2 separate regions of the Homo sapiens genome follow, and region 2 is linked to region 1. The links come from fine-mapping of genetic effects on gene expression. A gene starts in region 1. The other region holds a variant in brackets. All regions are shown on one strand. Distances are between the middles of the regions.

Evidence for each region. PIP is the estimated chance that this variant, and not a neighbour inherited with it, causes the effect.
Region 2: its variant is fine-mapped to the expression of HSPG2 in whole blood (TOPMed, PIP above 0.99).

What each region holds. Positions count from the first base shown.
Region 1 is chr1:21,932,813-21,941,216 of GRCh38, reverse strand. HSPG2 (heparan sulfate proteoglycan 2) reads left to right here and starts at 3,907. Exons shown (of 97, transcript NM_005529.7): 1 at 3,907-4,062. The coding sequence starts at 4,000. RefSeq lists a silencer at 3,519-3,868 and an enhancer at 4,616-5,457.
Region 2 is chr1:21,900,857-21,917,392 of GRCh38, reverse strand. All of the region lies in intron 1 of HSPG2 (heparan sulfate proteoglycan 2), which reads left to right. It also overlaps the pseudogene RPL21P29. Among named protein-coding and RNA genes, the nearest start is that of HSPG2, 28 kb to the left of the region's middle. RefSeq lists a silencer at 1,846-2,001 and enhancers at 5,828-6,543, 6,544-7,259, 7,256-7,325, 7,376-7,435, 7,496-7,545 and 1 more. The variant G/A (reference allele first, on the strand shown) is at 9,232.

The DNA of each region.
Region 1 (8,404 bases):
TTCCCACATGGACATAGAAACTCTCGTGGGCAGTGTTTAGTTTCACTATTGAATGAATATAGGGCCACAGCTAGCCTTACAGTGCCTTCACTCATATCAGCAAAAAGTACCCATTCTGGGCCGGGTGCAGTGGCTCACGCCTGTAATCCCAGCACTTTGGGAGGCCGAGACGGGTGGATCACTTGAGGTCAGGAGTTCGAGACCAGCCTGGCCAACATGATGAAACCCTGTCTCTACTAAAAATACAAAAAATTAGCCAGGTGTGGTGGCATGTGCCTGTAATCCCAGCTACTTGGGAGGCTGAGGCAGGAGAATCGCTTGAACCCAGGAGGCAGAGGTTGCAGTGAGTTGAGATCGTGCCACTGCACTCCAACCTGGGCAACAGAGCAAGATTCTGTCTCAAAAAGAAAAAAAAAAGTACCCATTCTGGGCAGATGTAGCCCCACAACAGGGCCCATTACAGTTCCTATTTACCCACTTGGCTGCACACCTTTGTTCAGTGAACAACCTGCGCAACTGTCCACTGCAGCCCTGAATGAATGAATGAATGGACAAAGGAATGTGATTAAGATGAATGATAAGCTCTCAGGCAGAGAAAAGATTTGGAATGGGAGTGGAAGCCAGAAGATGAGTCCTACTGAATTTGGAGGAGTGGACAGGTAAGCCACAAACTCCAGCTGCTGGTTCCAGAACCCCCAACACCTATTCTCAGAAGTCAAGCTGTTTGACTATTTCTGCCTATCCAAGCTGTTGTAGTCTCTCCGTGCCCAGGGAACCTTGTATGAGACTTGAGTTGTTTCTCTCCTCGAGTGTGACCAGCACCCTGAACTCTGTGTACATACAGTGAGATTATGGGCGCCTCCAAGGTTTTGCCAAGCCCAGAAGGCCTTGTGCCTGCTCCTCTTCTTAGCCATATGAGGAGATAGCCAGGCTCTAGACAAAGCAACTTGAGAGCATTTGCTAAAGATATCAAGGACTGCAAACTAAAACAGACCCAGGCAAATCCCTTAGTGGGAAGGAGAGGACACAGAATAAATAGGTGGATGACCAATCCTCCGCTGCTGGAGCCGCCCTGGAAGACTTTCTCAACATGCCATATATTCCTGCTTTCTGCGTGTCAGCCCAGCTCCTTCCAGTCCCTAGTCGGCCTTACCATCTCTTTCCTCAACCCCTTTGAGGAAGGAAGACTTATAGCTCTGGGTTAGTCTTGACCAAACATCTACAAAGGGTTGCTTGTTTCCCTTTTTTTCCCCCTTTGCTCATGAGCAAATCATCCAAGAAGCCAAAGCTCTGGTACTTAAAGGGCCCGAGGTAGGGAACAGACACTGAGGCAGCTCATGAAATGCGATTTGTCACGGATGCTGACAAATCCATGGACAGGCAAGGCCTTGGAAAAATCCTGCCACTAGGGCTGGCCACCTGCCAGCTCTGAAGTCAGTGGAGTTTTGAAGCCTTTCTCATCGGACAGGGAGTTTCCAAGTGCAAACCTGGTGTACTCTCCCCTCAAATGGGAGGTCCCTGGGGTGGCTGTGGAGGCTGCTCCTCTATCAGACCTCAGCTCCCCAAGGGCCAAGTCATGTCTCTCTCTTTAGATTGGGAGCACACCAGAAATAGTAATAAGAGAAATGGCTACCACTTATTTCATGCTTACCAAGTGTCTGAAATGGCTGTGTTTTTTAAAAGAAATATATTAATTTATCTTAATTCTCATAACAACACTAAGAGAGACGTCTTAACGTTATTCTCATTTTCTACATGCAGAGACTGAGACATGGAAGTTGAATCATGTGCTCAAGATTGCACGGCTAGGTGGTGGAGGCAGGATTCTCTATCAGACTGAGAACAATACCCGGACAGGGACTATTCTTCCCCACACCTCTATCAGATTAAGAGTTTACTGAGGGCCAAGATTGGGCGTCCCTCCTCTGTCCACCCCTATCTCCCTGTGCGGATCAGAGATAGACCTTATTCAGTGCTGTGCCTGGAGCCTGGGTTGGGGCCAGGCAGTTGGCCTGACTACCGTGGATGCAATTTCTGTTCTTTACAACTCTGAGCTGGTCCCACAGAAATATGCCCCACAGGGCATATTTTGGAGATATCTTTTGGAGATAGGGGATCTATCTGGGATGGGGGTCAGGATGCCAGTGTTTTTTCAATCCCCCAGATGCCTGGATGAGAGGCCCCAATGTGCTTGGGAGCCTGCGGACCCCTATCACAGGGAACATAGCTTCCGGAGCCAGGCCTGGTGCCGCCCAGTGAGCTGGGCATTTCCTTCTGTCCACAGCTCACCTCACTCCTGGCTGCAAACCCAGCCATGAGTTTCTGGAACCTAGCAACTCTCACAGGAAACAATGGAAACTTCAGTTTTATTCTCCTCCTCTATCATTACTCAAAAGGTTTTCCTCAAAGCTACACACACATAGTTTTCCTCTCCACCCATCAGCCTCGGGCTGCCCTGGAAATTTCAGGCAGAAGAGGGGAGCTGAAGAGTAGGCAGTGAATAGGTCTGGGGGCTTGGTGCTGTTTGCTGCCTGCGGTTGGGTCAGAGACAGATCATGGGGCTGTGATTTTACCACCCACCCGAGCATCTGTGATGGGGCTTTGGCAGGGTCTGTCTGTCTGGGCCTGAGTGTGTGAGTTGGTGTGGTTCTGGCTCTGGGGCTGTGATTTATGTGACTCAAAGTTGGTGTGTGAGTGATTTACATGGAAAATGGTGCAGGTGGGGTGGGCAGCTCAGTTCAGTACCCAGTGCCCACTATGAGGCACTGTGATTAGTGGGTGAGAACAGGTAAAAGATACAGGCTGAGGCTGGGTGCGGTGGCTCAATGCCTGTAATCCCATCACTTTGGGAGGGCAAGGCGGGCAGATCACAAGGTCAGGAGTTCGAGACCAGCCTGGCCAACATGGTAAAAACCCCATCTCTATTAAAAATACAAAAATTAGCCAGGCGTGGTGGCACGCCTGTAATCCCAGCTATTCAGGAGGCTGAGGCCGGAGAATTGCTTGAACCCGGAGGCGGAGGTTGCAGTGAGCCAAGATCCCACCACCGCACTCCAGCCTGGGGACAGAGCGAGACTCCTTCTCAAAAAAAAAAAAAAAAAAAAAAACAAGCTGGTAAGCATGTAGGCAATGATGTGGGCCTGTGTGTGAAATGTGCGTGCCTGCGAGGAATCTATGTGAAAAGGCGTCCTCCCGCTCCGTGACTTGTTGGGATGTATGCGTGAGTGAGGGGCTGAGTGTGGTGTGAGGGCTGTCTCCTGTGTCCCTGGTGGAGGTGAGAGTTTGGAAGCGAGTTAAGTGTGCATGTGAGCCGGTGAGGATTGTTGGTACTTCAGAGTTGGGTCCAGAGTGTGAAAGTGTTCCCGGGTAGCGCACAAGTGTGTTCGTGCAGTAAAGTTATGGTGTGAAGGTGTTCTTGGGTGTGGAAGTTGGCGTGCACGTGTGGCGCGGAGCGGCAGCTGCGTGCGTGTGAGCGTGGGAAGGAGATCCCGGGATCTTCAAAAGCTGCGCGAGTGGAGTCGGCCGTGCGGGGCGTGCAGGGGCGTGGAAGTCGGCGGCGCGCGCGGGGAAGCGGGGGAGCCGGGGATCGGGGAGGCGAGAGCGCCTGGCCCGGCGGCCCCATCCCATGCCCGGGCCCGGGCCCCCGGTCCCCCGCCCCGTCCCATCCCATACTCCAGGCCGGGTTTGGCGGGGAGCCGGGCCGGGCCGCGGCCCGCGCGGAGGGGGCTGGGGGCCCAGACAAAGGCCTAGTAGGCTGCGCGGCCGGCTGGGGCGAGCAGAGCCCGCGGCCCGGGGGCGGTCCGTGGGCGGGGCCTGGCGCTCCGGGGAGGGGCGGTTCGGGGGCGGGGCCGGCGCTGCGGGGGCGGGGCGGGCGGGGAGGAAAGGGGGCGGTGGGGAGAGGGCCGCGCTGTCCCGAGCTGGCCGGCGAGCGGGCGGCTGCGGGCGGCGCGGAGCGGGCGGCGCGGAGCGAGCGAGCGAGAGAGCGGCGCGGGCCGGGCCATGGGGTGGCGGGCGGCGGGCGCGCTGCTGCTGGCGCTGCTGCTGCACGGGCGGCTGCTGGCGGTGAGTGTGCGGGGCAGAGGGGCGGGGGGCGGGGGCGGAGGGGCTAGGGGCGCCCCGGTCCCGCTCGCCGCCTCCCGCCAACTTGGCTGGGGCGCCCAAGGCTGCGCGGCGGGGACTCTGGCCCGGGACGGCGGCGCCCGCCGGGGACCCCGGGCCGGCGCCACCCTGCGGCATGGGGCTAATCCAGGGGGGCCACCAGTCAGGACCCTTCGTGGGGCTGGGGGCGGGGCTGGCCCGTGTGGGAGCCCGTGGGTCTCTCGGCCACGTTGCCGAGTGCTGGAGTCTCGCTGGGCATGGTCCGGCCTACCATTCCTGGGGACCAGGAGGGGAAACTTTGAGCAGGGTGGGAACTTGGCAGGACGAGGGAACCCTTCTGCGCCAGCTTGGCAGAACGGCCACTCAGTGGTGATGGGGACCCTATGAGTCTCGCTGAAACTTTACCACACCGTCTATCACCTTGGGGAGCTTGGACCCAGGTAGGCACAAGCAAAACTTTTGGGACAGAACTGAAGCTTGTGTGGAACACCCACGGGCCTTGGAGTCATACAGCCGAAGAGTTGAATCAATCCCTGCCTTTCACTGAGTAACTGTGTGACCTGGGGCACGCTAGTTAACCTCTCTGAGGCCAGCCCCACGTGGGTCAAGGGAACTCAAAATGCACGGCCTCAAAATGCATAGCTGCAGGGCGTTGCTGGACTGCGTGGAATGAGCTGCAAAGTGCGTGGTGCGGGGATGCAGTGCACCCTTGGGGGACCCGAGTTCCCCAGCTTTCCTCTTCCCAGGTCTCCAAGAGGCAGGGAGAGGCCTGCCCTTGCAGTCTAGTCCCCTACTCTGAGCTTAGGTGGAGGAAAAGGGAATTCTACGGTCAGGAATCCCGAGGCTTAGAAGGCACTTGGCCAGCAGAGGCCCTGAGGACCTGAGTGAACTTGAGGAGGACTGGGTGGGGTCGGTGGGCAGGGAGCTAGTGGCAGATGTGGGTGGGGGCACATCTGGGGAGCCGAGCCTACCGTGGGGAGCCACAGAGCCACCCCCACTCTCTCCGAGGTGCTCCTAGGCAGTCCCCATACCTGCCTCCCTGTTCTCTGAGCCAAGAGAGGGACTTTTCTAACCAGGCTGGTGTTTACCCAGGAACTGCCTGCCTGGCCTCACCTTCCTGGCTTCATCGCACCTCTACCCTCCTGAGTCACTCGTCAAGCCCCCACCCAGACCTGGCTCCTCACTGCTCTTGCCCCACCCACCCAGCACTTCTCCTCCCCCATCCCCACTCTGGGCAGCCTCCTCTGTCGTCCTCCTGTTTCAGCCTCTCACCCCAAAATATTCAGCAGGGCCATCCAGTAGCTCCCTAGTCTTGACCTGAACTTGCACTCCTGGCACTGACTTTTACTTTTCCCAACGCACCAACCTAGCACGTGGGATGTTTTCCGAGGCCCAACAGTCTTTCCTGACCTTCCCCCAGCTCTGCCCCCGATGAGGGGCTCCTCCATGCCCGGGTGCGGTAGGATGGCGGTGGGTGGAGTTGTTTGCTGTGTGCATGAGGAATTTCCACAGACATTCCTGGACCGTGGCAGATCATCTCATTCACTTGTTCATTCAACAGATCATCACTGAGCGACATTCCATGGCAGTCACTGGGAGTACAGAGGTTCATTCTTTGGGCAGATATTTGCCATGCACCTACTGTGTGCCAGTGAACCAGTGAACCTCGTGTGGTGCTAGGGGCTGGGGTGGGTTGGACCAGCAAGGACAGGCCCTGTCTGTGCCTTCCCAGCACTCACAGGCTGGTGGGCGGTAATTTAGACAAATAAACAGGCAGCTCCAATCCTGTGGGATTAGAGAGCCTTCTCAGCAACACATGGAGGGTCGCTGTCCCACCCCAGGCTGCTGGTGGTGGGCTGGAAAGAGCTTGGCCCCTGAAGTCTCTTTATAAAATTCTTTTTAAAAAGTTTTTCAGGCCAGGCGCGGTGGCTCATGCCTGTAATCCCAGCACTTTGGGAGGCCACGGTGGGCGGATCACGAGGTCAGGAGTTTGAGACCAGCCTGGCCAACATAGTGAAACCCCATCTGTACTGAAAATACAAAAATTAGACGGGTGTGGTGGCGCATGCTTGTAATCCCAACTACTCGGGAGGCTGAGGCAGGAGAATCGCTTGAACCCAGGAGGCGGAGGTTGCAGTGAGCTGAGACCACACCATTGCACTCCAGCCTGGGTGACAGAGTGAGACTCCGCCTCAAAACAAACAAACAATAAAAAGTTTTTCGGGGCCAGGCGCGGTGGCACACGCCAGTAATCCCAGGACTTTGGGAGGCCGAGGCGAGCGGATCATGAGGTCAGGAGTTCAAGATCAGCCTGGCCAGCATAGTGAAACCCTGTCTCTACTAAAAATGCAAAAAGTTAGCCAGGCATGGTGGCACGTACCTGTAGTCCCAGCTACTCCGGAGGCTGAGGCAGGAGAATGGCGTTAACCCGGGAGGCGGAGCTTGCAGTGAGCCGAGATCGCGCCACTGCACTCCAGCCTGGGCGACAGAGCAAGACTCTGTCTCAAAAAAAAAAAAAGAGGGCATCACACTTTGTTGCCCAGGCTGGTCTCAAACTCCTGGCCTCAAGCGATCCTCTCGCCTCGGTCTCCTAAAGTGTTGGGATGACAGGCATAAGCCATCATGCCTGGCCTGTCTCTGAAGTCTTACAGACCCAAGTATGAGTCTCTGGGCTGCGGTTTCTGGCTGTGTGATCTGGGGCGAGTTCCTCTCTCTGAGCCTTAGTTTCCAAATCTGTACAATGGGGTTGAGGAGTTTGTTGCAAGTCAAAAATGAGATCAATTCCTAGCCCAGGCTCCCAGCACACCTTGGACCCTCTTTGCCTGCTACCCTTGCTCTCATCTGCCCTTCAGTTTGGTCCGGAGCCAGTGGCTTATGGGGAAGGGTTGGGCACAGCAGCAGGGTGAGATGGGCCTTAGGGAGCTCCAGGCTTCCCCGGGACGGGGGACAGGACCACAGGAAGCTGATCTGTGATTAAGTGTGGGTGTAATTTCAGCTGTTGGGAGGTGAGGAGGCTTGCTGGAGGAGGGGGCTGGGCCTGGGTGACTCGGCAGGCCTTGGCCTGCTGACCCCTTTAGGGCGGCCCTGCAGGGGACAGGCGTCTTGAGGGAGCCTCGGTGGTGATTAAGGTGTTTTCCAGGGCCTAGGAGGGAAGTCGCTGAGATACCTGTTTCCTGCCTCAGCTGGATTTCCTCACTGGGGAGGCTGCCAGCTGAACTGCAGGAGCCTCCCCTTCCTGGCGGTCCCTCAGCCCTCCTCCACGCAGCCAGCTGCTCTGTCACCTGACACTAGCCTACTTGTTCCGTACCTGCAGCCGGCACAGGATGGGGTTTTGAGTGTGCCCTGGACATTCCCGGAGGGAAGGAGGGCAGGCTGCAGGTCTGTCTGCAGGGTAGAAGCTGGAAGGGGCAGAGATGGACCACCCCCCCATCCCTTAGGCCCATTTCCCCCTGTCTGGGGAGTTGTGGCCCCTGCCTGGCTTGGCCCGGGCCTGCTCTCAGGCTGAGCGCAGACAAGTTAGGATCTGTGGGTCTGAAGCCCTGCCCGGGAGACGGTGGAAAGAAGGTGGCAGGAGGTGACTGGGTTCAGGGCCCGGAAGACGGGTGAGCAAAGTGGAGGGGAAGGAGCTCTTGGGGTGCCAGGCTGGATGATGACACAGTAATACGGGTACTTCAGACTTACCCAGTACCCACTGTCTGCTCTGAGTTTCTCAGTGAATCCTCCCATTCACCTGTGTTTCCTGCTCACCACCTCCCTGCGGTGCTCAGAATTAGGTCCCAGCCCCTGACTTAATATAGCCTACGAGGCCCTGCAACACCCGGCCTCCTGCCACCTGCTCCTCTCAAACTCCTCCAGCTATACCAGTCTTTGTTTCTTTTTCTTTTCTTTTTTTTTTTTTTGAGACAGGGTCTCACACTGTCACCCAGGCTGGAGTGCAGTGGCACAATCACAGCTCACCGCTGCCTCAACCTCCCACGCTCAGGTGATCCTCCCACCTCAGCCCCCTGAGTAGCTGGGACTACAGACACCCTCCTCTACACCTGGCTAATTTTTGTATTTTTTATAGAGACAGGGTTTTGCCATGTTCCCCCAGGCAGGTCTCGAACTCCTGGGCTCAAATGATCCACCCCCTTCGGCCTCCCAAAGTGCTAGGATTATAGGCGTGAGCCACTGCACCCAGCCTTTTCTTTTCTAATGAATATAAAAATTTAAAACAAATAGAGATGGGATCTTGTTGTATTGCCCAGGCTGGTCCCAAACTCTTTAACTCAAGCTATCCTCCCACCTCAGCCTTCTGAAGTGCTAG
Region 2 (16,536 bases), 28 kb after region 1:
GGCACGATCATGGCCCACTGCAGCCTCGACCTCCTGGGCTCAAGTGATCCTCCCATCTCAGCCTCCCGAGTAGCTGGGACCATAAGCACACACCACCACACTTGGCTGATTTTTGTATTTTTCATAGAGACGGGGTCTCGCCATGTTGCTGAGTCTGGTCCCAAACTTCTTGGGCTCAAGCAATCCACCTGTCTCAGCCTCCCGAAGAGCTAGGATTACAGGCATGTGCCACCGCGCCCAGCCATTCTGCCCTTTCTTAGTGTGAAAAAATCAAAGACCTTTGTAAACAGGCGGTCAGAACTTCTGGTCAGCGTGTGATAACTGGTGTAGCTGACAGAATTCAGGCCAAAAGCAGACAGACTTGATATCTTGATTAACGAGGCAGCCTTATCACCACACATGTTCGATTTCCGTTAGCCGTTTCCAGCCTTGACAATAACCATGGGTGGGGAGCCCTGTGGCAGAGCCAGGCCTGGTTCCGATTTTGCCTCTGCAGCCTACAGCTGTGCAGCCTTGGCAAACCTCAGTTTCCTCCTTTGTAAAATGGAGATAGCTCCATCTCCAGCCTTGGCCTAAGGATCAATGATGGTATAATCTGCACTGTCTGATATGGTAACTGCTAGTCACACGTGACTATTTAATGCAAAATTTAAAATTAAATAAAGTTTTAAATAAAAATTCAGTTTCTTTTTTTTTTTTTTGAGATGGAGTCTCGCACTGTCGCCTGGGCTGGAGTGCAATGGCGCAATCTCGGCTCACTGCAACCTCTGCCTCCTGGGTTCACGCAATTCTCCTGCCTCAGCCTCTGGAGTAACGGGGATTACAGGCACACACCACCACACTGGCAATTTTTTTTGTGTTATTTATTTATTTATTTTTATTTTTTTTAAGACAGAGTCTCGCTCTGTTGCCCAGGCCGGAGTGCAGTGACACAATCTCGGTTCACCGCGAGCTTTGCCTCCAGGATTCATGCCATTCTCCTGCCTCCTCCTCCCGAGTATCTGGCACTACAGGTGCACGCCACCACGCCTGACTAATTGTGTTTTTGTATTACTAATAGAGACAGGGTTTCACCGTGTTAGCCAGGATGGTCTCGATCTCCTGACCTCATGATCCACCCGCCTCGGTCTCCCAAAGTGCTGGGATTACAGGCGTGAGCCACCGCACCCAACCAAATTTTTTGTATTTTTAGTAGAGATGGAGTTTCACTATGTTGGCCAGACTGGTCTCCAACTCCTGACCTCATGATCTGCCCGCCTCAGCCTCCCAAAGTGCTGGGATTACAGGCGTGAGTCACCGTGCCAGGCCTTTTTTTTTTTTTCTTCTTCTTCTTTTCTTTTTTGAGATGGAGTCTTGCTCTGTCACCCAGGCTGGCATGCAGTGGTGTGATCTCGGCTTACTGCAACCTCTGCCTCCCAGGTTCAAGCAATTCTCCTTCCTCAGCCTCCCGAGTAGCTGGGATTACAGGCACACACCACCACGCCCAGCTAATTTTTTTTATTTTTAGTAGAGATGTGGTTTTACCATGTTGGCCAGGCTGGTCTCGAACTCCTGACCTCAGGTGATCCGCCCACCTCGGCCTCCCAAAGTGCTGGGATTATAGGCGTGAGCCACCATGCCCGGCAAAAAATTCAGTTTCTTGATGGTACTAGCCTCATTTGAAGCGCTTAGTAGCTATCTTATTGGATGAGTGCAGGCACGCAACATTTCCATTGCACCAGAAAGTTCTGTCGGAAGCGCTGTGTATGTTAAGTGCTGGGTATTGCTGGAAGGAGTTGCTGTGGTCATTATCCCTGGTTCCCTGTCCCATATTGGAACCGTTCCAGCTCTCATTGGTTCTTCTTGCTGCTCCTCTCTCTGCTGGGCTCTTCCTGCTTTCTTCTCGGCAGCCTCTCACTCTCCCTTTGCCTGACCACACCCATAATGTGAAAAACTCCATGACTTGCCTTCATCCAGCTCCTCTGCCCCTGTTATTTTCCCACGTGCTCCCTGCAGCCTGTCTGCATATCTGCCCTTTCAGCTGCTGGCATCTGGAATCTCCATGTCCGGGCTCCGAAATTCCCACTACCCATTCCCAGTGGGAGAAGGGGAGGAGGCCTCCCCTGGCAGTCCCTAGTCCCCAGCTCCCAGCAGAGGTGCCGGCTGCCTGGGCCCCTTAGCGGTGTAGAGATGATGGTTTGTTGTGACGGGGGCACCCTGCCCGCTCTAACGCGCCCGTATCAGGGCGCCAAGTGTGCTGTTTGCACTTGGCTGGGCCTCACGATCTGGCCGGGTGCCCGTGAGGGCTGGCCCGCTGGCACCCTTGGTAACAAAGGTAACAAAGGCCAATCATGGACCCTCCGCCTGGTCAGGAACATAAGGAGCCGGTCCTGGGCTGGGCCCTGGGGGTGAGGGACGTCTGACACCCAGAACCAGAGTGCAGGACAGAGGCCGTGGCTGTGGCTGGGCTCTGGGTGCTGAGTGGGACAAGGCCCAGGCAGGCATAGGCAGGATGTGAGCTTTTGGGGGTCAGGCAGGTGGTTGCTCTGGGCAGTTCAGGTGGGCAGGGTCTGCACCTGGCATTCACACCTGCCCGGGGAGGAGCTTTGGCCTGAGATGCCAGAGAAGCTCAAGGTCACCTCCCAGCACCATCCTTTCTCCTCCCCTTCCTTTTGGGGAGGAGAAAGTCATCTGCGAAGTGGATGGAACAGGCATCTCTAGCCCATGAGTGACAAGGACATTGAGGCCCTGCAAGGAGCTGCAGCTGGTCTGAGATCACATGGCCAATCCCTGGAAGAATCAGAGCTTGGACTCAGACACCTGCGCTTTTCTACCTTTCTGCTCCTCCCCATGGGAGTTGTGAAGCCAGTCGTCCCTGGACACCTGGCTATGGAGGGTCAGATCCTGGCCCTGCCAGATTCTCCTCCGGGGGATAGAGACAATTACACCTAGCTCTCAGGGCAGTCATGGGGGTTAGATAACCGGCCTCCTGGCTGTTTTCCAAAACATTCTGAGGCTCCTCCTGCCTCTGGGGTCTTTATAGATGCTGCTCCTGGTGCCTGGGTGCTCTTCCTCTAAGTATGCACCTGACTTGCTCTGTCAGCATCACCCTCCATACCCAGGGAAATAGCAACCCTCAACAGGCCACTCCCCGTCCCCTCACCCTGCTGTATTTCCTTTTCAGCACTCTCACCATTTGACATGTATATTTGGGGTATTAATTTATGGTCCATCGGTCTCCAAGTAGACGGTCAGCACCAGCAAGGGCAGAGAACATTGTGTGGCTCATAGTACCTGCTCCTATAATGATTACTGTTTTTTCCCCCTTCTCTTTCTAATACTTCCCAATACCTAATAGCCACTGTTTACTGGGCCCTCTCTACACACCAGATCCTGGGCTAAATGACTCACAGCTTAGCGCCACAAATTTCACAGGTTCCTGTCACAGGCTGCTGTCACTTTTGTATTAGAATTGAGGGCGGAAGGCACTGCAGTGCCTTACCCAGAGCCACCCAGCTGGCAAGCGGCAGAGCCATGCCTCCGGCTGGGTTAGTCCCACCCAGAACTCACACTGTACTGCCTCTTGTGTTGGGTTTATGAGATCAGAGCCTTCATCCAAACTGGGGACTCAGAATCCACGTATGATGGGATTGGATGGATCAGATTTGGGGGTAGCTCTCAATCTTTTGGGGGTTCCCCTTCTAGCCTTCTCCTCCTTCCCTGTGCCCAGCACACATTTCCTAGGATGGCTCCTTCCCTGGGATTGGTCAGTTAGTTACAGCCGGGCTCACTGCCCCAGAATGACAGGTACCCTTTGGCTGGGGGGACCCAGCAGCTAACCTAAGGCCTGGGGGTTGGGCAGGGAGCAGAGAGTGGGTCCAGGTTCCTGGCTGTCCGTGGGCTGTCTGAGGGCAGGTGGACAGGATGTTCCCTGGGGCAGCAGACATTCCTGGTCGAAGGTGACAGGCAGCGGGGAGATTTACCATTTCCGGTAACCCGAGTCCCTGGGATGTCGCATTCTCTTTGCCAAGGACACGGCATCCCTCCCTTGCCAGCCCTTCCTGCCATTTCCTAGGCTGGGCCTGTCTGACTGGGGCTTGAAGACAGGCTGGAGGGACCAGCTCTGGGTGCCAGAGGTTGAGACTGAGGGCTCTGGCCCTGATTAGCACCCCCACAAAGACCTAGCCCATTGCCACCCTCCCAGAGGCCTCATCTGTGTAGCCCCTTATCCTGGCCTTTGAGAATCCTTGCCCCAAGGAGAGGAGGAGGTGGCTTCGTGAAAGGTAAATGACCCTTTGTTAGGAACCAAGAGGCTGGGTCCTGGATCTGCCTCTGCCAATCGAGTTGCTGGGAGGCTCCTCTCTCTTCTCACGGCTGCCCAAAAGCACCATTCTTAACACTCTGTATACATAATCCAGCTTTTTTTTTTTTTTTGAGCTAGAGCCTCACTCTTTCGCCCAGGCTGGAGTGCAGTGGTGCAATCTCAGCTCACTGCAACCTCCGCCTCCCGGGTTCAAGTGATTCTCCTGCCTCAGCTCCCCAGGTAGCTGAGATTATAGGCACATGCCACCATGCTGTGCTAATTTTTATATTTTTAGTGGAGATGAGGTTTCACCGTGTTGGCCAGGCTGGTATCAAACTCCTGATCTTAAGTAATCCGCCTGCCTCGGCCTCCCAAATTGCTGGGGTTACAGACACAAGCCACTGCGCCCAGCAATAATTATTAATCCAACATTATGGGGGTATGGGAGGCACAAAAATGAGGCTCAAAGTGATAAAGTTCCCCAGCAGCCGGAAGTGTCAGAGATGGGATTGAACCCAGGCCCTCCAAGTCTGGTTGGTTCCCCATAACATGCTCACTTCCCTTCTTTGGGATTTGGTTTCCCCATCTGATAAGTGAGGGTGTTGGCTAGGTGATCCCTCCCAGCTTGGACAGTACAGGATCCAGGAATGCATTGGAACCTTTTGCAGGCAGGTTTCTCTTGTGTCTCATTCTCCCCGGGGGTCTTTGGAGAGCTCACTCACTTGGTGTGTGAGCTCTGGGGTGGATAGGACTGGGAGAGAAGGAAGAAGTGGTACTTACACCTCGTAAGTGCCTGATACTAGCACTTAGGTTGTCCTGTTGAATTCTGACGGCAGCCTTGTGAGGGGGTCATTTTTATTCCCATTTTACAGATGAAGACACAGAGGCTCAGAGAGGTCAAGTGATTTGCCCAGGGCCACACAGCTAGGAAACTGCCAGGCTAAAGTGTCCAGTCAACAGTTAACAGTGGTATGGGGTGGCATGTGCCCAACACACATTTCCTAGGATGGCTTTGACTTATTAATAAAATATGATAGATATAGTAGTCATCGCAAAAAACTATCAACGTGTCTCAGAGATTTGAATACCTCTGCATCCAAACTTCACCTCCCAGGCTGCCTCTGACACTCAGAAGTAGCCCAGAAATCCTTTATTTAGTGGTTTCTTGATTTCTGCTTTGGAAAATATGGTCAGTTGTAATTATGGGTATGTGAGAGTTCAGAGGAGAGAGAGCTGCGTGGGCTGGAGCGGGCTGGAAAGGCTTGGCACCGAACTGGGAGTGGAGCTGGGCTGGCCGGCAGCTGAGGGGGCTGAGATGGGCTGGGGTGGGCCAAGCTCACAGCCTCCAGGGACGTTTCCTGAAGGGCCTGCAGTGGGGCTGTGCACCAGGGAAATTGCAAGCCTCTTCAGGACTCCCTCCCTCCCGGCCCTGCACCTCCCCACGGGGGCCCTGGAGCAGGCCAGGCTCCAGTTAAGGCATGTTCAGCCCCAGACCTTTGCTCCGGCCTCTCCACCCAGGCTTCCCAGGGAACTGGGTAAAGGGCTGTGCTATGGGACAGCGAGGCCAGGCACCCTGAGGCTTGAGCAGTTGACAGCATGAGGACTAAGATGACCCCAGCCAGCCCGCCCACCCCCTCCACACCCCCACTCCCTGCCTGCTCTGGGGCCCTTGGCCCTGAGGCCTCAGCAGCTGTCAGCAGGGAAGGGTGACAGAGGAGGGCCAGAGGTGACTTCCCAGCCTGCCCATTCTCCCCCTGCTTGGGCCAGGCCCAGAGCTCTCCCCAGCTGTTGTCAGCAGCTGTGGAGCTTTGTTCTGGGGCCAGCTCTGGGTAGCCCCCTCCTCCCAGTACATCTTCCCACCATCCTTCACAGCTGCTGCCCTTGGGGAGGGGCTGGGGCTAGTGTGGGAGACAGAGTCACATCTTTGGTTCCTTTGATCCTACCAACGACCTGAAGAAGAGGAATTCATGCCCTTGTTTTTATGGAAGAGAAAACTGATTCAGAGAGGCCAAGCAACTTGCTTGAAGTCACACAGCTTAGTGGCTGACTTCAGGCTCCTGGCTCCCCACCCAGTGCTCTCCGACTGCCTTTCTTCAATGTGCATTTGGCGCAGGATGCCAGGGGCTTCAGGGCTCCTGGGCTTGACTCCCAGCTTGGCCATTTGCGACCTCAGGCGAGCTGCTTAACCACCTGGACTGGAACTCCCGTTTTCTTGCTTGTGAAATAAGATAATGGTACCGACCTCTTGGGACTGTTGAGCAAATTAAATCAGATAATTAACATCAGGTACTTAGCATAAGGCTTGATGTGTTCTTTGTGCTCAAGCTGAGAGCTGGCAACGTTACCATCGAGGGTATTAACCACCTGTGTGCCTGGCATTCTGGGTGGTTCTATGGAGGCTACAGACACATTCTTTAAATATTTGTATCAGTCAGTAAATATTTATTTGGCACCTACTGTGTGCCAGGTGCTAGAAAAAGGGCAGCGACAAAACAGACCAATTCCCGTTCCTGCTTATATTCTGCTTCACAAAGTGGCTGGAGAGACACTACTCATCCTAACCATGGAAGCCTCTGGAGTGCTTTCACACACTGGGATTCACATCCATATTTTGCAGATGAGAAAACTGGGACCCAGAGAAGATCGATGGCAGAGTTGAGCCAGGACCCAGCTTTTCTGAGGGTCTCAGGCAGTGCTGCTGAGCACAGGAGGCAGCCCTGTGGGCTTCCTGGAGGAGGCATTTTGTGCTGAATCTTACAGGGCCTCAGGGCCTGGCAGGGGAGGTGGGGAACAGTACAGGATGCAGCCACCACAGTCTGGGCAGGAACAATTTCAGGAAGGTCTTACGGAGGGCAAGGCCTTTTGTTCCCCAGGGAGGAGGCCCAGTCAGAGCTTTAAATACCCCGTGCAGCCCAGAATAGCCCCCATTGTGTTGGTCTGCAGCTGGGGGACCCAGGGAGGAACCAACATCGCCATGGAGGATCCTGAGGGGGCTGATTCTGGCAGATTCTGGAGGTGGGGCGGGGAGGTCTTCAGGCACTTCCCTATATGGTGCGGTGGCATTTCTGTGGAAGGCTTTTCTAGTCTGGCTCAGGCAGGAAGGCCTGCTTTGTGGGAAGGGTGGAGCAGCAGCTCAAGTTCTGCGTGAGCAACGTGCAGCTGAGGGGGGAGCCTGGTGGGTGGGGGACTCCCAGGGACGGCTCTGTGCCTGACTGAAGGTGCCTCTTTGTGCACCAGAGGTATGTGTGCATTGGCCCACTGGGCCCTCCTGTAGGTGGGCCTAGCCCAGGCCCTTGCCAGGGCCTCTTGGCACCCTCTCCTGCTCTAGCTATTTTGGGCACTGGCTGTGTTCGGGTTTGGGGAGTGATGGGTAATCCTGCCTAGACCAAGGCTGCTGGGGTGAGGTTGGTGGGGTACTGACTGGACTGCCATTCCAGCTCCCTGAATCTTTGATCACTGTAGCCTCTGCCCCTGGCTTCAGCTTCAAAGGGTCATGGTCAGCAGACTCTGAGGGGATGCCAGCCCCACTGATGAGGCAGAGAAGGGTGCCAGACAAGCCTGTCCCTTGGGACATTCCCTGCTCTCAGTATCAGGGATAGTTGTGCTTTTTCTAAGCAACTGGTTTGTTTTTACATTGTGAGACATGGAATCTAGGGACTGGTCAGGTTTCCTTCTTCCCATTGGCTGCTGGCAAGCTCAGGGCCACATGAGTTGTCCCTTTCCTAGATCTCTGGGATTCAGCATGTGCTCTCTGTCTGCTTGCCTCACTCCAGGCTCCATCTGCCTGCCCTGCCTGAGTTTTTCTTATATTTCTTTAGTTAATATTCTCTTGGCTGTTAAGTGTGCATCTTTGTAAGCTGTCTGCAGCCTTTTTGGAACAGGGCAAGAGGGGAGGTATAAATGAATGATGAGGATGATGGTGATGATGACCCTTTGCTCAGCGGGTCTCTGCAGCCTGACTCCTTCTGGCTCTGTCCTGACATTGTTTCTGTTTTTGTTTTTTGAGATGGAGTCTCACTCTGTCGCCCAGGCTGGAGTGCAATGGCGCCATCTTGGCCCACTGCAACCTCCACCTCCCGGGTTCAAGCGATTCTCCTGCCTCAGCCTCCCAAGTAGCTGGGATTACAGGCATGTGCCACCATGCCCGGCTAATTTTTGTATTTTTTAGTAGAGACGGGGTTTCACCATGTTGGTCAGGCTGGTCTCGAACTCCTGACCACCAGTCCCAAAGTGCTGGAATTATAGGCGTGAGCCACCGCACCCAGCCTGTCCTGACTTTGTAATCCCCTCCTTTAGCCCTGTTCCTTTTGCAGGTGGGACACAGCCTAGAATTTTAGAATCCTAATGTTTTAGAGTGTCAGTGCTCTAAAATATCAAAACCAGAGGAAGCTTTGGGGTCGTTTAAGTTGATGGCTTTCAAACTCATTAAGCAGTGAGACCCTTATTTTAATCAAAATAACAAAGATAATCACAGCAAACACTTTTTTTTTTTTAACAGCCCAGAGGTCTTTTTTTTTTTTTAAATACCTATTATGCCGTGAATTCATAGAGAATAGGTTCCAGCAGCTCAGGCTCCTTCCCATTGGTTCTCACAAAGTGTGCTTTGCTGGGTGGAGCAGGCTGGCGCTTTAGTTGAACCCAGGTACCTTTCTCTTTGGCTTCTCTCTTTTTCTGATCATTCTCCTTCACGCGTTTCAGGAAGCTATCTCGGCTCTCAGAGTGCTTAATGTGCTCAATACGCACATTAATTCTCTTGGCAAGAATCTTGCCCTTAACTTGTTTGTTTACAACAATGCTAGCAGCATACTGGATAACATTGTAGACTCTTCCAGTTTTGCCATGGTAACACTTGTGGGGCGTTCCTTTTTGAACAGTACCCATTCCCTTGATGTCTACAATATCACCTTTCTTATAGATTCGCATATACGTGGCCAAAGGAACAACTCCAT[G/A]TTTTCTAAAAGGCCTGGAGAACATCTATTGGGTGCCTCTCCTCTTTCCCTTTGTGTTCGTCATTTTGGCGAATTACTGGAAGATGGCGGTTCCGGCCGAAAGGCAGCAAACACTTATAGAACATTCACCATGTGCTGTGTTATCTGTAGCATTTTACATCTGTATTTAACCCTCACAACAGCCGTATGAGATAGATATTATTACTATGAATGATCGTGCCCATTTTACACATGAGGAAACGGAGGCACAGAGAGGAGAAATGACTTGCTCATGGCCTCACAGCTAACCAAGGGCTGAACCAGATATTTATGTAGGTGAGAATATAGAAAGGAAAGAGGTGGATTTGTAGCCGGGCACAGTGGCTCATGCCTGTAATCCCAGCACTTTAGGAGGCCGAGGCAGGAGGATCGCTTGAAACCAGGAGTTCGAGACCAGCCTGGGCAACATAGCGAGACCTCATCTCTACAAAAAATAAATTAGCCAGATGTAGTGATGTACACCTATACTCCCAGCTACTTGGAAGGCTGAGGCAGGAGGATATCTTGAGCCTAGGAGGCTCTGAGGAGGCCCACTGCCCTCCAGCCTGGGCGACAGAGCAGAACCCTGTTAAAAAAAAATTGGATGTGTTTTGATGAAAGTGAGTGTTTGGGAAGGGGCCCAAACTCTAACGGTGCCCCGCTTCCACCTCACTCCTGTCCAGAGTGGCCCTGAGGCTGCTGAGGATGGACTGGAGAGCCATGACCTAGGGCTGCTTCATCATCGGACAGAGGGGAGTCTGAGGCCCAGAGAAGGGAAGGGACCAGCGAGCAGAGCTGGTTGGGAGCCCTGTTCTCAGTCGCTGCCCTGAAGAGCACCAGCACCCCCTTACCTGCATGGTCGCCGGCCCTGGGAGTGAGCCCCTGCCCCGGTCTCTGCACTCAGCAGCTGAACGAAGCTCTCTTTCTCTCTGGGGCACAGGTACCTCCAGACTTTCTGGAGGGTCCAAGCGGACCAGGAATGACTGGGTGCTGGGCCACCTTCTCTTTCACCTCCGACAGGAGTCACCCCCTGAGAGAGCAGACTGATGGCCAGGGAGGGAAGGCTCAGGCTGTGTCTGGATTTCTCAGGTGACAGGTGTCAATCACCCTGAGGAGAGAGAACACACCCCTCCTACTACCAGCTAGCCGGCCGCCAGCCCGCTTTTCCTTCCATGGGGCCTTGCGGCTTTTCTTATCTTCAAGAGCCTCCTTTACAGAGCCCCTGGGTACTGGGGAGCATATCTTACGTCTAAAATCTTACTTAAGGCTAACTTGAGGGAAAGGCGGGATGGTTGGGGTGGTGTTCCCAAAGTGTGTTCTGTGGAACCCTAGTCTAGTGAGCCTTGCATACATAAAAGGTTCCAAGTTAAGCAACTTGGGAAACACCAAATAGTTGCACGTGACCCCCCCCCACCCCCCAGTCCCATCATGTTGCTTCAGTCATTTAGGACTTAGGGAGGCAGCTCAGCTTTGTGTAACCAGCCTTTCCCAGATGTGTTTGTCTCCCCCGCGCCTATTCCCATCCGAGAGTTTCTGTGTCCAGGAAAGGACATGAAGAAAGCAGACATGGGGCGCTTCAGGACGAGGACCCCTTGCTCTGATTTCCAGCTCTGCTCTCCACAGGCCTATCTCAGCCATGGGCCTGGCCCTGCCTGCCCCTTCCTCTTCTTCCTTACAGCAGATGAGGAAAGCCCAGCCTGGGGGCAGGGGGAGCCGACCTCCTTGGCCACAGCTGCCGGGCTGTTCCAGCCTGTTTTTTCCTGTTGCCGATGCCCACGGGAACAAGCGCTGAGTACAGTCACTGAGGCCTGGCTGTCTGGCTGTGTTGCGCAAGGCCCTGGAGCCAGAGTTCTGGCCCCTGCTCGCCTCCGAGGCCCCCACCCACCCCTCCGGGATGCTCTTCAGTGACTATGGGCAGCCTCTTGTCACCCCAGAGATGGGCTTCCCAGCAGGAAAGTCCCAGGCATCATCGGCGGGACCAGGTGGTATGGAGTTCCTTCCAGGTGTGGAGCCAGGGGTCTTAGGTTCAAGTCTTGGTTCTTCCAACCCTGTGACTATGGGCAAGTTAGCTCTCTGAGCCTCAGGCTCCTCACTTATAAACCCCATTAATTAATTAACTAATTAATTGTTTTTAGAGACAGGGTCTCACTCTTTTATCCGGACTGGAGTACAGTGGTGCAATCATAGCTCACTGCAGCCTCGAGCTCCTGGCTCAAGCAGTCCTCCTGCCTCAGCCTCCTAAGTAGCTGGGACTACAGGTGTGCACCACCACAACGGGCTGATTTTTAATTTTTTTGTAGAGACAGAGTCTCACTATGTTGTCCAGGCTGGTCTTGAACGCCTGGCCTCAAGTAATCCTCCTGTCTCAGCCTTCATTAATTAATTCAACAATTTATTTTTTTAGATGGATTTTCACTCTTATTGCCCAGGCTGGAGTGCAATGGCACAGTCTTGGCTCACTGCAACCTCTGCCTCCTGGGTTCAAGTGATTCTCCTGCCTCAGCCTCCCAAGTAGCTGGGATTACAGGCGCCTGCCACCACACCAGGCTAAGTTTTGTATTTTTAGTAGAGATGGGGTTTCACCATGTTGGCCAGGCTGCTCTCGAACTCCTGACCTCAGGTGATCCACCCGCCTCGGCCTCCCAATGTGCTGGGATTATAGGCGTGAGGCACCGACCATGCGCGGCTGAAAGGTGACATTGGAGCAAAAACTGGAAGAAGTGGAGCGAGTGATGGAATATGTGGGGACAGTGTCCCAGGCAGGGGGCTTGGTGTGTTTGACGACTATTGAGAGGATGCATGTGGCTATTTTAGAAGGCAGGGAGTTGGGGGAGCACAGTAGCAAAAGAGGTTGGAGCGTGGCGTGTGTGTGTGTGTGTGTGGGTGTGTGTGGGTGGGTGTGTGTGTAGACAGATTACATAGAACCTGGTTGACCATGATTGTGTGTGTGTGTGTGTGTGTGTGTGTGTGTGGGTGGGTGGTGGGTGTGTGTGTAGACAGATTACATAGAACCTGGTTGGCCATGATAAGGGCTTTTCCTCTCACCCGTTGGTGAGTCAGGAGTCGTGGGAAGGCCTAACCCGACAGGTTCAGGAAGCGGCCGTGGTTGTTAGTGGTGTCTCATGGCAACATAACTTTGTGGAACATTCCGCCCATCCTTCCATAGTCCTGGCACTGTGCAAGGGGCATCATTCATGAAATCTGTGGGCAGTGACCCAGGAGGGTATGGGCAGGCCCAACCAGGTTGGTGTGCCCTTGAAGCCCCACAGACCTGCCAGGGCAGCAGGGCAGCTGGGAGCCGGAGAACCTGAGAACCAAGCCAGGCTGCATGCAGGAGGCTGGCACGTGAACGCTGCAGGTGTTGCCGGCAGCCGTGGTGCCTGGCAGATAGTGTTCGACCCCCAGGGACCTTCTTGCTGGGCAGCCCAGTCCAGAAGCTGTTCCCGCTTAGGCCACCCCCACCGCCTTGGCCACACCTGGCACATGGGTGAGGCAAGGGCATTTCCCGGTGGCTTCCTGGTTCCCTGTAAGCTGGCAGGCAGCTCATTCAGCCACCAGGGGAGACCTAATCTTGGGGTGTCTGTGGGGGACGGAGGAGAGTGCAGGGACTCTGGGGGTACAGGGGAGACTTGGCCTCTGTGACTAGCACCGGGTCAGCAGCACAACTGAGGGGCGGCCCTTTTAAATGGAAAAGCCCACTCGTGCCGCCCTTTGACTCCTCTGCCACTCACACGCGTGTCCCGCTGCACCAGGCTTCCTCCCACCCCGCGAACGTGCCGTGCCCTCTCCAGCCCTGGCCTCAGCGTGTGCCCTTCCCTCCACCTGGTCCGCACTCTTCCCCTTCTCTGCTTTGCTTAGGTGAAGTCATCTCTCAGGCCCAGCTGAGTTAGCATTTCTTCTGGAAATCTTCCCCAGCCTCCCAGCCACCTCCCTAAGTGAGGGGACCCTCCCCTGGGCTCTGCCGGCCCCCTTCCTTCCCCTTCAGCACTCTCTTCGCACGGTGTTGCCAGCACGTGGTTCCGTGGCCTGTGTCCCCCAGGAACATGGAGTTCTGTGTCCATTTCACATTTTGTCCCCCGGGCCCAGCACATAGTAGGTACCCCGTAAGTCGAGGTTGAAGTGACTTGAATTGAACCAAATGGGACAGATCTGATCGATTCTACTTTTTTTAAGGATGAGGAAGCTGAAGCCCCCTAGCTAGAATATGGCCAGGGTGGCCCGGACTTGGAGGTGTCTGACAGCACAGCCTGCTCTGCCCCACCGGCTGGTGGTCAAGTGTTCTCGCCAGTCCCCTGCCTGGTCAGTGCCAGACCGGGTTGGGTGCCCACCCCTAGCTATGTCATAGGAGCCTCCAAGGCAGAGACCACATGGGGCCTGCCTGGAGAAGGGCCAGGCAGATTCAGAGATTGGGACTGTGCCTCTCAAAGAGATCACCGCCTCATTCCACATGCCTCTCCCAGTAGCCCCAGGAAGGAGGCAAAGCGGGGACCTTTTTTTGCTTCCATTTTATTTATTTTTATTTTATTTTATTTATTTATTTTTTGAGATGGAGTTTTGCTCTTGTTGACCAGGCTGGAGTGCAGTGGCGCAATCTTGGCTCACTGCAACCTCTGCCTCCTGGGTTAAACGATTCTCCTGCCTCAGCCTCCAGGGTAGCTGGGATTACAGGCGCACGCCACCACGCCCAGATAATTTTTGTATTTTTAGTAGAGATGGGGTTTCACCATGTTGGCCAGGCTAGTCTCGAACTCCTGACCTCAGGTGATCCGCCTGCCTCTGCCTCCCAAAGTGCGGGGACTACAGGCGTGAGCCACCATGCCCGGCCTTTTGCTCCCATTTCATAGCGGAGAGAACTAATTCTTGGAGGGATTGTTCTGCAGGGACAGGGGTGTCTTGGAACGGATTTCAGGGCCCGTGTGACCTAGTCCCCTCTTTCCCTTAGGATGAAGTGTTATGGCCTCTGTCGTATTAATGGGAACTGAGGACTAGAGGTAATTCTGGCACTTTCAAGCTGTGTAATCTTGGGCAAGTCTCCTTCTGAAGTTAGCTTTCTTCTGTCAGGTGGGTTAATTTCCACCTCAGGGCTGTTGGGCAGGTTCATTCATTTGGTTTGTCCGTGAGTCCGCAGATTTATTAGTACCTACTGTGTGTTTTCTGTTGTGGAGTTGCAGCAATGCTCAAAACAGATCAAAGTCACTGCCTTCCACGTGTTGTTCACATGGACTGAGATGGTGGGTGTGGATGCCCAGTGCATACAGTAGAGACTCACTAAAGTTAGCTAAAAGGTAAAGGAGGCAGGGGCTTGTCCAAGGCAACGTGGTGAGTGCGGGGCTAAGCTGGGACTAGAAACTCCAGACCCCAGCTTCCTGCCCTCTGGGCCTCCGCTGAAGGCCCTGACCTGCCCCAGCGCTCCCGAGAAGCCCTGGATGGAATGCAGCTTTTCCAGGTTGCAGGCCTTGATATGAGCTTACAGAGGGCAAGGGGTCAGAGGTCAGAAGCAGGGCCCTGCTGGCAGCTGTGCCTCTGAGCTAGCCAAATACAGAAGCATGAACCCAGCAGAGGGGAGTCCTGGTTTCAGACTCCGTTCCCATTGCCTTTGCTGTGTGACCTGGAGCAGGTAACTGTACCTCTCTGAGCCTGGTTTCCTTATCTATCAAATGAGTGTGCCTCCAGTGTCTCCCTCGTGAGGTTGTGGTGGATCTGAGTGACGTAAGTCTTGTGAAGACCTTAGCTCAGCCCCTGGCACAAAGAAGCCCTGGATGCGTGTTGGACCCTCTCCTTGTTTGGGGGCGTCCGTATTTCTCCTGGCTGACTGGCTGGTGAAGTTCCTGCCACCTTGGGGGCCCCTGTGTGAGAAGCTGGCAGGCCTCCCGAGTGGCACGGGCAGCACAAGCATGCCAGAGGAGGCTGTGGCCACCTCCCTTCCGGCCCGGCGCCCCTCTCAGACTGCCAGGGGATTAAAGGCCTTTTGGCCTTTGTGTCGGGCTCTGAGCCCCTGGCAGTTTGTACAACAAAGTGCTGCCCCGACAGATTCCTTCCTGTGTGCTGTCTGTCGCCTGTGGACAGGGCACTGGGTGGCCTGGGGGTGGGGCAGGGCACCTTGATCCTGTGTCTGGGGCCTGGGTTGCAGCCGAGTAGGGGAAGCACTTGTTTTGGGGTTACCTAGGAGCCTGCATCCTGGCAGAGGGGGATGGGGACCTTGTCTGGGTTCATGTCCCTCCCCAGAGATTTGGGGACCATGGGTCACATTGTCTGCTGGTTCCTTGGCAGTGGGCAGGGGAAGGGGCACTGAGGCAGAGCCTGTGGTGACCGTGGCAGGGAGGCAGGTGGGCAGGCAGGAGCTCTTTTGTCCCCCCGCCCCTGCACTGTCTCTGGATTTTGATGGGGTGAGCTCACTCCATCCCCACATGCCTGGAGCCTGGCCCTGGGCAGCTGCAGCCGCCCTGGGGACTGTGCAGTGCTCAGACCTTCCTGCCTAGCTGCGGGGGCAGTCGGGGGCTCAGTCCCAGGCTTGGGCTACAAGGAGGGTGGGGTGGACTGGCTGCTGAAGGCATGTGAACAATGTGTCTGGAGAAGCCCAAAGCCCTGGGTTGGTCCCAGAGTCAGCCTCTGAGCAGGCAGACAACTTTGAGCCATAGGACCCAATTCTATTGCCCACCCCTTGCTAGGGTCCTGCCCACTCAGCCAGGCTCCTCCCTTCATCCCAGATCTGGAGGCGACCCCAGGCCTGAGCCCACACCTCACACTCCGCATGCATCACCCCTCAACCACACCTACCCCTCACCCCTACCATGCACCCTCTGCATGATACTAATCCTAATGCTTATTAAGCACTTACTGTATAAGTAATTCTAGTGCTTATTAAGCACTTACTGTATAAGTAAACGCCTCACTAAGTGCCTTACCTGCTTGATCCCATTTACCCAGCCGATTCTCTCTGAGCCTCAGTTTCTTCATCCAGAAAACGGAAATAATAATAACACAAGCTCACAGTTTCTTGACCGAAAGCCTCAGAGTCAGATGTGTTCTGGAATTCAGAATTTTTCAAGTTTGAGAAGGTGACATAGAGCATGTGCCCAGCCGGCATGTGACATCCCCATTGGAGTCTGGGGGTCACACCCCATGATCAAACAACGGTAATATTGCTACAGTGAAACACAGGACTCTTCCCTCTGAGTGGAGTGAACACACTCTGAATAGCTTCATGTCGGTTCAGTTCAGGGCTTGGCACCCAATGAGCTTGCTATAAACTTTTTTTTTTAACAGAGTCTTGCTCTGTCGCCCAGG